Homo sapiens: one gene and its partner. The protein of the gene in region 1 interacts with the protein of each later gene in a pairwise test. Each region holds a gene or a part of one and is shown on either strand. Other genes may lie near its edges.

The links.
Region 2: the proteins of PROX1 (region 1) and HNF4A interact in binary tests that used the Homo sapiens proteins (3 or more experiments, as listed by UniProt).

The regions. Positions count from the first base shown.
Region 1 is NC_000001.11:214,036,473-214,039,972, forward strand, and holds part of PROX1 (prospero homeobox protein 1), read left to right. Parts: 3' UTR 1-3,500. UniProt on the Homo sapiens protein: Transcription factor involved in developmental processes such as cell fate determination, gene transcriptional regulation and progenitor cell regulation in a number of organs.
Region 2 is NC_000020.11:44,421,388-44,425,425, forward strand, and holds part of HNF4A (hepatocyte nuclear factor 4-alpha), read left to right. Parts: intron 1-2,630; coding exon 2,631-2,867; coding exon of another isoform or gene 2,868-2,992; exon of another isoform or gene 2,993-3,256; intron 3,257-4,038. UniProt on the Homo sapiens protein: Transcriptional regulator which controls the expression of hepatic genes during the transition of endodermal cells to hepatic progenitor cells, facilitating the recruitment of RNA pol II to the promoters of target genes. Activates the transcription of CYP2C38.

The DNA of each region.
Region 1 (3,500 bases):
AAGTCGTACCAGTTTCTTCTGGAGGCAAAGCAATTTTGCACAAAACCAGCTCTCTCAAGATGAGACTAGAAATTCATACCTGGTCTTGTAGCCACCTCTCTAAACTTGAAAATAGGTTCTTCTTCATAAGTGAGCTTACATCATTCTTCATAAAGAAAAATCCTATAACTTGTTATCATTTTTGCTTCAGATACTAAAAGGCACTAAGTTTCCAATTTACGCTGCTCAACTTTGTTTATATGCTTAAAAGGATTCTGTTTACTTAACAATTTTTTCCCCTAAAATACTATTTTCTGAATACTTCCTTCCAGTAAGGAATAAAGGAAAGCCCAACTTGGCCATAAAATTCTTGCCTACACTAGAAGTTTGTTGACAGCCATTAGCTGACTTGATCGTCATCTCCTAAGAGGAACACATATATTTTCACAAGCAATTCCACACTATCCTGATGGGTATGCAAAGTGGTGACAGTCTAACTCAGTGTTTCTTCATTTTAGGTATAACATTTTAAAGCAATTGATAATGCCTCTTCCAATTCAGAAGCTAGTATTGACCAAAATGTGAGAAGAGTGTATAGCATAGGAAAATTTGGGGTTAACCCAAAAGACACAATTCCAGCACACATAAGAAAGCTAGCTGCTATTTTATGCTTTCTTCCATGGTTCTCCTCTTTTTTCCCTTTTATTTTTCCCTGTTTTTCAATGATGTACAGTGTTCCCTACTTGCATTGAAAAAACTCGTATGGCATTCACACTTTTTTTCTTAGGTGGGTTTTTGTGTCCAGATGCAGTAAGAATTCATTGTTCATCCTAAAACTGTTTTCCAGACCCTTCCTTCCCCTTAGGTAATTTGATATACACCTCCTAAAATGACACAGTAACAAATCTGGTATTTAGAACATATAGAACATAAATGCCATTTTTTAATTCAACTTTAATAAGAATTACATTTGACTTTGGAGAATACAGGTCTTGACCCATGTGACTGACTAGCTGACCCGATCGCTGTAATTTAACGTCATTTATAAATTCTGCTGATGGACAGGAATGTATGAACTCAATTATTGTCAGCACAAAGCCTTAAAACCTGCTGACTTTAAATTAAATGGTGCAGTCCTATGATGCCCTGCACCATCCAGGGGACTAACAGGGCCTCGCAGTGTAGACAGAGGGTGCAGCCACACGGGCGGGGGCACCAGCCACCTCACTCTGCACCCGCGGCCTCACACATCTCCCAGCTCACACTCTACTAATGCACAGAGTCATTAGATCCAATTTGTTATTTTTCTCACTTGCTTTAAAAAAAAGCAGTTTGGATAATCATGACATTGGAATAAAGTGGGAAGGAAAAATTCCATCAGCACAAAATAGGGAAGTAATCCCAACTTGTAGTCACAGTTTTCTGACTGGCTTTGTTTTAAAAGAGGATGGCAGTCCTTGTTCGTGTCAGTGTGCCACTGGGTTTTTGCTGTTCCGTGTAATTCATATCAACTTTGTGTTGCCATTTGCAAGGTAAAAGGCAAAGCTGTAGTGTATTCACCTATGTAGACAGATTGCTAGATATCTTTTTGATCTGGGGCGAGTTCAATATTGATTCCAGACTTATTTGGATTTTTTTAGTATTATTTTCCCCTCCCTTTCTAATTTAAATAGACAAATTAAGCAAAAGTGTGTGTTCACAACCAAATGTTGATGCCCTTATCTACTGATAATATCCTCTCAATGTTCACTGAGGCATAGAAATTATTTCAGAGTAGAAATTGCAGCATGAGGATAAACTCACCTCTTTGTTCTGAAAATAGAACTTTATCACTATGCTTTCCGGTGGTTTTCCCTTTTACAATCGAAATCTTGTGCCTCCCAAGTGCATTGGAAAATGACAAAAGCCTGTCTCTCCAAATTCCTATTTAACAGTTTGATTTTTTTTTTTTAATCACCATCTTTCAAATCTTAGCTCAACTCTCACCAAGTGAAAATTGGCTACTTGGGAGAAAGTTAACTTTCTATGGTGGGATGGTGAAGGATGAGGGACAGTTTACATAGGAAAAGAAAAAAAAAAGTCTAAAGTCCATGTTGAAAAACCACACTACCACTTATTTTCTGCTAACCCTAAATTATTTTTGCGTATACGCTTGAGGTTATAGTCTGTGCCTAGACCTAAAATGCACCAGCGGGGGGGATTTTAAAAAATCCTTCAAAATACCAGTTTTTTCCCAACAAGTACAATTGTTCTTGTGCCTTCTGTGGCTTTCGATTTCATCTTTTTGACTTTATTTCCAATTACTACAGCTGCAATAAACACTAGATTTTTTTTCTGGCTGTTTGACATAACGTTGATAGCTATGCATATTTTGTGTCTTTTTAAAACAAAGCGGGAGAATACGTTTTTGAAGAAGAGAATTTTTAGAACAGTTTGATACCGCAAATTATTTTTTCCTCAATTGTTTGAGCAGCATTCGAGTTTTGAAAATTCTTGTAGAAGCCAATTTTTTGTAACTGTGGTGCAAATCTTGTGTTTTCTTAGCCTAATGAAAAGTAGTATAGAAGCAATATTTCATACCATGTGCTATATATGTGTGCGCAGATGTGTGAACATAAAATCACATACACACATATACACACATGTAAAAATATACATATATATATATGCGTGTGAAGTGGAAAGCTTACCTTTTCCTATCTAGATTTAAGAACCTATTTTAGACATTTGTTATGTTTTGTGAAAAGAATGTTCTATTTGCAACAAAACATTTAATTCTTACTGTATCTCTGGCTGTTTAATGAGGACGTTTCACATTAAATGGTAAAACACATGGAAGATGTTAGAATGTAGTAATTATTTAAGTAAACGTTCACCCACATATTCCTGAAGTTTGCTTTGTGCCTCCGAGTATTATTTAATTAAAGAAGTGTTTTATGTTTGCAGAATCTTTGTCACTGTACTAGGGATGTGGGTGAATATCATTTAAAAAAATTTAAAACAACAAAAAAAAAGCAAAACAGAAACACTAAAGCAAGAGGGGAACTTTTATAAAGCAATGTAAATATTTAACCTCATGGCTGTCATTATGTAAGACATGAGATTTTAATAAATAACTACATTCTCACGACATCTGTTGAATTTACTAGGAACACTACAGTGACTGTATAGACAGTTGAAAGCATTCTTGAAAATCCTGCTCTCTCCTTTTAAAAGTTAACAATCTCTTTTATCAGATGTCAAGGGCAAGGGTAATGCAGTTTCTGTAAATTTATGAAATTTCTTTTTCTATGTACATGAAGACATTTAGTAAGTAACACCCCCCCTTCCCATGCGCACATGTGCGCATACACACACACACACACACACACACACACACAAACACACACACTGTCATAAAGCTAATGATTTGGGGACTTTAAAAAATAGGATGTCCTCCAGGAACAATCATAAATTTATGAAAGAAAGAGTAGTTTACAGACTCCCCTGAAAGAAGCAGTGTATATGTGAAGACAGTGCAA
Region 2 (4,038 bases), on another chromosome or scaffold:
ACATGTTAGAGGGGACCTACTGTGTGCCAGGCACTGTCCTTCACGCTGCAAATAGATTACCTCTAGTAATAATAGTAATGAAAAGGCTGGGTGTGGTGGCTCACGCCTGTAATCCCAGCACTTTGGGAGACTGAGGCAGGCAGATTACTTGACGTCAGGAGTTCAAGACCAGCCTGGCCAACATGGTGAAACCCCGTCTCTACTAAAAATACAAAAATCAGTTGTGTGTGGTGGTCCGTGCCTGTAATCCCAGCTACTCAGGAGGCTGAGGCAGGAGAATCGCTTGAACCTGGGAGGCGGGGGTTGCAGTGAGCCAAGATCATGCCATTGCACTCCAGCCTGGGCAACAAGAGCAAAACTTCATCTCAAAAAAATACATATATGTGTATATATATATAATATATATTATATATATATAATATATAGTGATATATATAGTATATAGTGATATATTACGTATAATATATATTATATATAGTGATATATATTTTATATATATATAGTGATATATATTATATATAGAGAGAGTGATGAAGTGGAAGATGAGCCCCATGTATTGAATGCTCCCTAAAGAGCTGTTTTTAAACACTTTATGTGGATTGTCTTACTTACCAACATGGTACCTGTGAAGTAGGAATTATTATTATCTCCATTTTACAGATAAGGAAACTGAGGCATGATTAACTTGCTCAAGGTCACACAACCGGAAAATGGCAGAGCTTGGATTTGAACTTCAGACCACCTGTCAATCCCAATTTCTCTCTCTCAAGCCCACATTCTTACCTACCACCTGCTATCCCACACTTACCAGAGGGTGAGATTTCTAGTTCTAGTTCCCTCCACAGCCTGGCCCAGCCTGTATCCTCTGTAGTGCTCAACACGAGGCTGGACTGGCAGAATTGTTCTGCAAAATGGGAAGGATCACTGATGCTGAGTCAGAGGCAGCAGCCTCCAGCAATTTGAAGGGGCGGGGGACCTAGTTCAAGGCCTGGCATGCAGGAGGTGCTCAATAAACATGTGTGGCCTGAATGAACTAATGAATAAGCATGATTCAGTGGAGACAGCCCACTAGAAATGTGGGTGAATGTTCTTTCTGCCACTTCCTTTGTCCATGAAAGAGGAAATAAATGCATTACCTCCATGAAGGTTGAGATTAAATATTGTATGACCGCTTAAGTTCCTTTCTAGGCTAAGGATCTAGAATTTATTCACTGATTTTTTTTTCATTCATTCATCCAGCCATCTAACAAAAAATATACATATAGTTATCAATAAATATATATTTATATATAAATATATATTTTTTAAAATATATATATATATAGTCTGTCACCCAGGCTGGAGTGCAGTGGCACCGTCTTGGCTCACTGCGACCTCCACCTCCCAGTTTCAAGCGATTCTCCCACCTCACCTCCTGAGTCGCTGGGATTACAGGCATGTGTCACCACGCCAGGTGAATTTTTGTATTATCAGTAGAGATGGGGTTTCACCATATTGACCAGGCTGGTCTCAAACTCCTGACCTCAAGTGATCCCCCCGCCTCGGCCTCTGACAGTGCTGGGCTTACAGGCATGAGCCACCATGCCTGGCCCTATTCAATAAATATTGACTATGCATGGTGCTAGGTGGTGAGTTTGAAAAGGCAAAGGCCGGGTGCAGTGGCTCACGCCTGTAATCCCAACATTTTGGGAGGCTGAGGCAGGCAGATTACTTGAGGTCAGAAGTTTGAGATGAGCCTGACCAGCATGGTGAAACCCCGTCTCTACTAAAATACAAAAATTAGCTGGGTGTGGTGGTGTGTGCCTGTAATCCCAGCTACTCGGGAGGCTGAGGCAGGAGAATCGCTTGAACCCAGGAGGCAGAGGTTGCGGTGAGCCGAGATCACGCCACTGCACTCCAGGCTGGGGGTCAGAGGGAGACTCAGTCTCAAAATAAAATAAAATAAAATAAAAATGGCAAATAAGACATACGCGTGCCCCTGCCAAACTCACAGTTGGATGGCACAACAATTACATCCTGTGTGGTCAGCAGTGATGGAGGGGCCGCAGAGATTTGGAAACAGGAGGGACACAGGATACAGATATAGGAGGGTAGAAGGCAGACTTCCTGGAGGAGGTGAAACCTAACCTGAGTCCCTAAGGTGATAGGAAGCAGGAACCAGGGAAGGGGAGCCTATTCTAACACAGTAGAAGCAGCAACTGCTGAGGTCTGGATGAGGGGACCTCAACTGTGGCCCAAAACCCCAAGTTCCCATTGTGGCTCTGCCAACAACTGGCTGTGCGACCCAGGACAAGTCCTATCTTTGCACTGTGTCTGGGTTTCCCCGTGTGTAAGATGAGGCGGTTGCTAGGTGCTTATTGGATGCATTCCTCAAGTCCCGCCCTCCATCTCCTATTCCCCTCTCTTCTGGTTTAGTGCTTTAGGAAATGTGGCAGAAATCTTTTTCTGCCTGTGTCTAGGAAATCATAATTCATGCTGGCGTACCCTGGTTGTTGAGGTCCCTGAATCCTTGTGCCCACACTGCTGAAGACTCCTTGTGTGATACAAGTCAGGGGACATCTGGGTCTTGACTCCCCAGATGCTCCAGCTGGACCCTGCTGCCCTCCCTTGCCCACCCTCTTCCATTGTAGATGCCAAGGGGCTGAGCGATCCAGGGAAGATCAAGCGGCTGCGTTCCCAGGTGCAGGTGAGCTTGGAGGACTACATCAACGACCGCCAGTATGACTCGCGTGGCCGCTTTGGAGAGCTGCTGCTGCTGCTGCCCACCTTGCAGAGCATCACCTGGCAGATGATCGAGCAGATCCAGTTCATCAAGCTCTTCGGCATGGCCAAGATTGACAACCTGTTGCAGGAGATGCTGCTGGGAGGTCCGTGCCAAGCCCAGGAGGGGCGGGGTTGGAGTGGGGACTCCCCAGGAGACAGGCCTCACACAGTGAGCTCACCCCTCAGCTCCTTGGCTTCCCCACTGTGCCGCTTTGGGCAAGTTGCTTAACCTGTCTGTGCCTCAGTTTCCTCACCAGAAAAATGGGAACAAGGCAATGGTCTATTTGTTCAGGCACCGAGAACCTAGCACGTGCCAGTCACTGTTCTAAGTGCTGGCAATTCAGCAAAGAACAAGATCTTTGCCCTCGGGGAGGCTGTGTGTGTGTGAGTATGTATGGATGCGTGGATATCTGTGTATATGCCCGTATGTGCGTGCATGTGTATATAAAGCCTCACATTTTATGATTTTGAAATAAACAGGTAATATGATAGAGTTTAACTGAAAAGGAATCCTCTTTAGATAGGGGAGGCCACAGGAGACCTCTCTGAAGTGGTGACTCTTGTGCTAAGACCCTAACGGCTGAAAGGAAATGGAAGGCTTAAAAGACAAGAGAGGAATATTCCAAGAAGAAGAAACTACTTCAAGGGCTGCGGATAGGAGAGAGTGTTGTGTTTGAGAAAGAAGGGCAAGGTTGTGAGATGGAGGACGTGTAGGAGGTGAAGATGGAGATTGGGCAGAAACCAAATCATAAACATATGGCTTTGTCAGCCTTTTCAGAAATTTGGATTTTATTCTCATTGCAACTATTGTAAGGAGAGTGAAAACCAGACTAAGTATTTTTATTCTTTGAGACAAAGTCTCCCTCAATCATCCAGGCTGGAGTGCAGTGGCACAATCTTGGCTGACTGCAACCTCCACCTCCCGAGTTCAAGCAATTCTCCTGCCACAGCCTCCTGAGTAGTTGGGATTACAGGCGCCCGCCACCACGCCCTGCTCATTTTTTTATATTTTTAGTAAAGACAGGGTTTCACCCTATTGGCCAAGATGGTCTCAAACTCCTGACCTCAAGTGATCACCCACCTCAGTCTCCCAAAGTGCTGGAATGACAGGTGTGAGCCGCCACACCCATCCCAGACTAATGCTTCAAACAAACCACTCTGTTGGGTAGAGAGTGAATTGCAGATTCCTGAGAATGTCACTGTCTCCAATCATGTGATGGATGATGGAGGCTTGGACCCTGGCAATGGAGCAGTGAAGATAAACCTGATCATCTA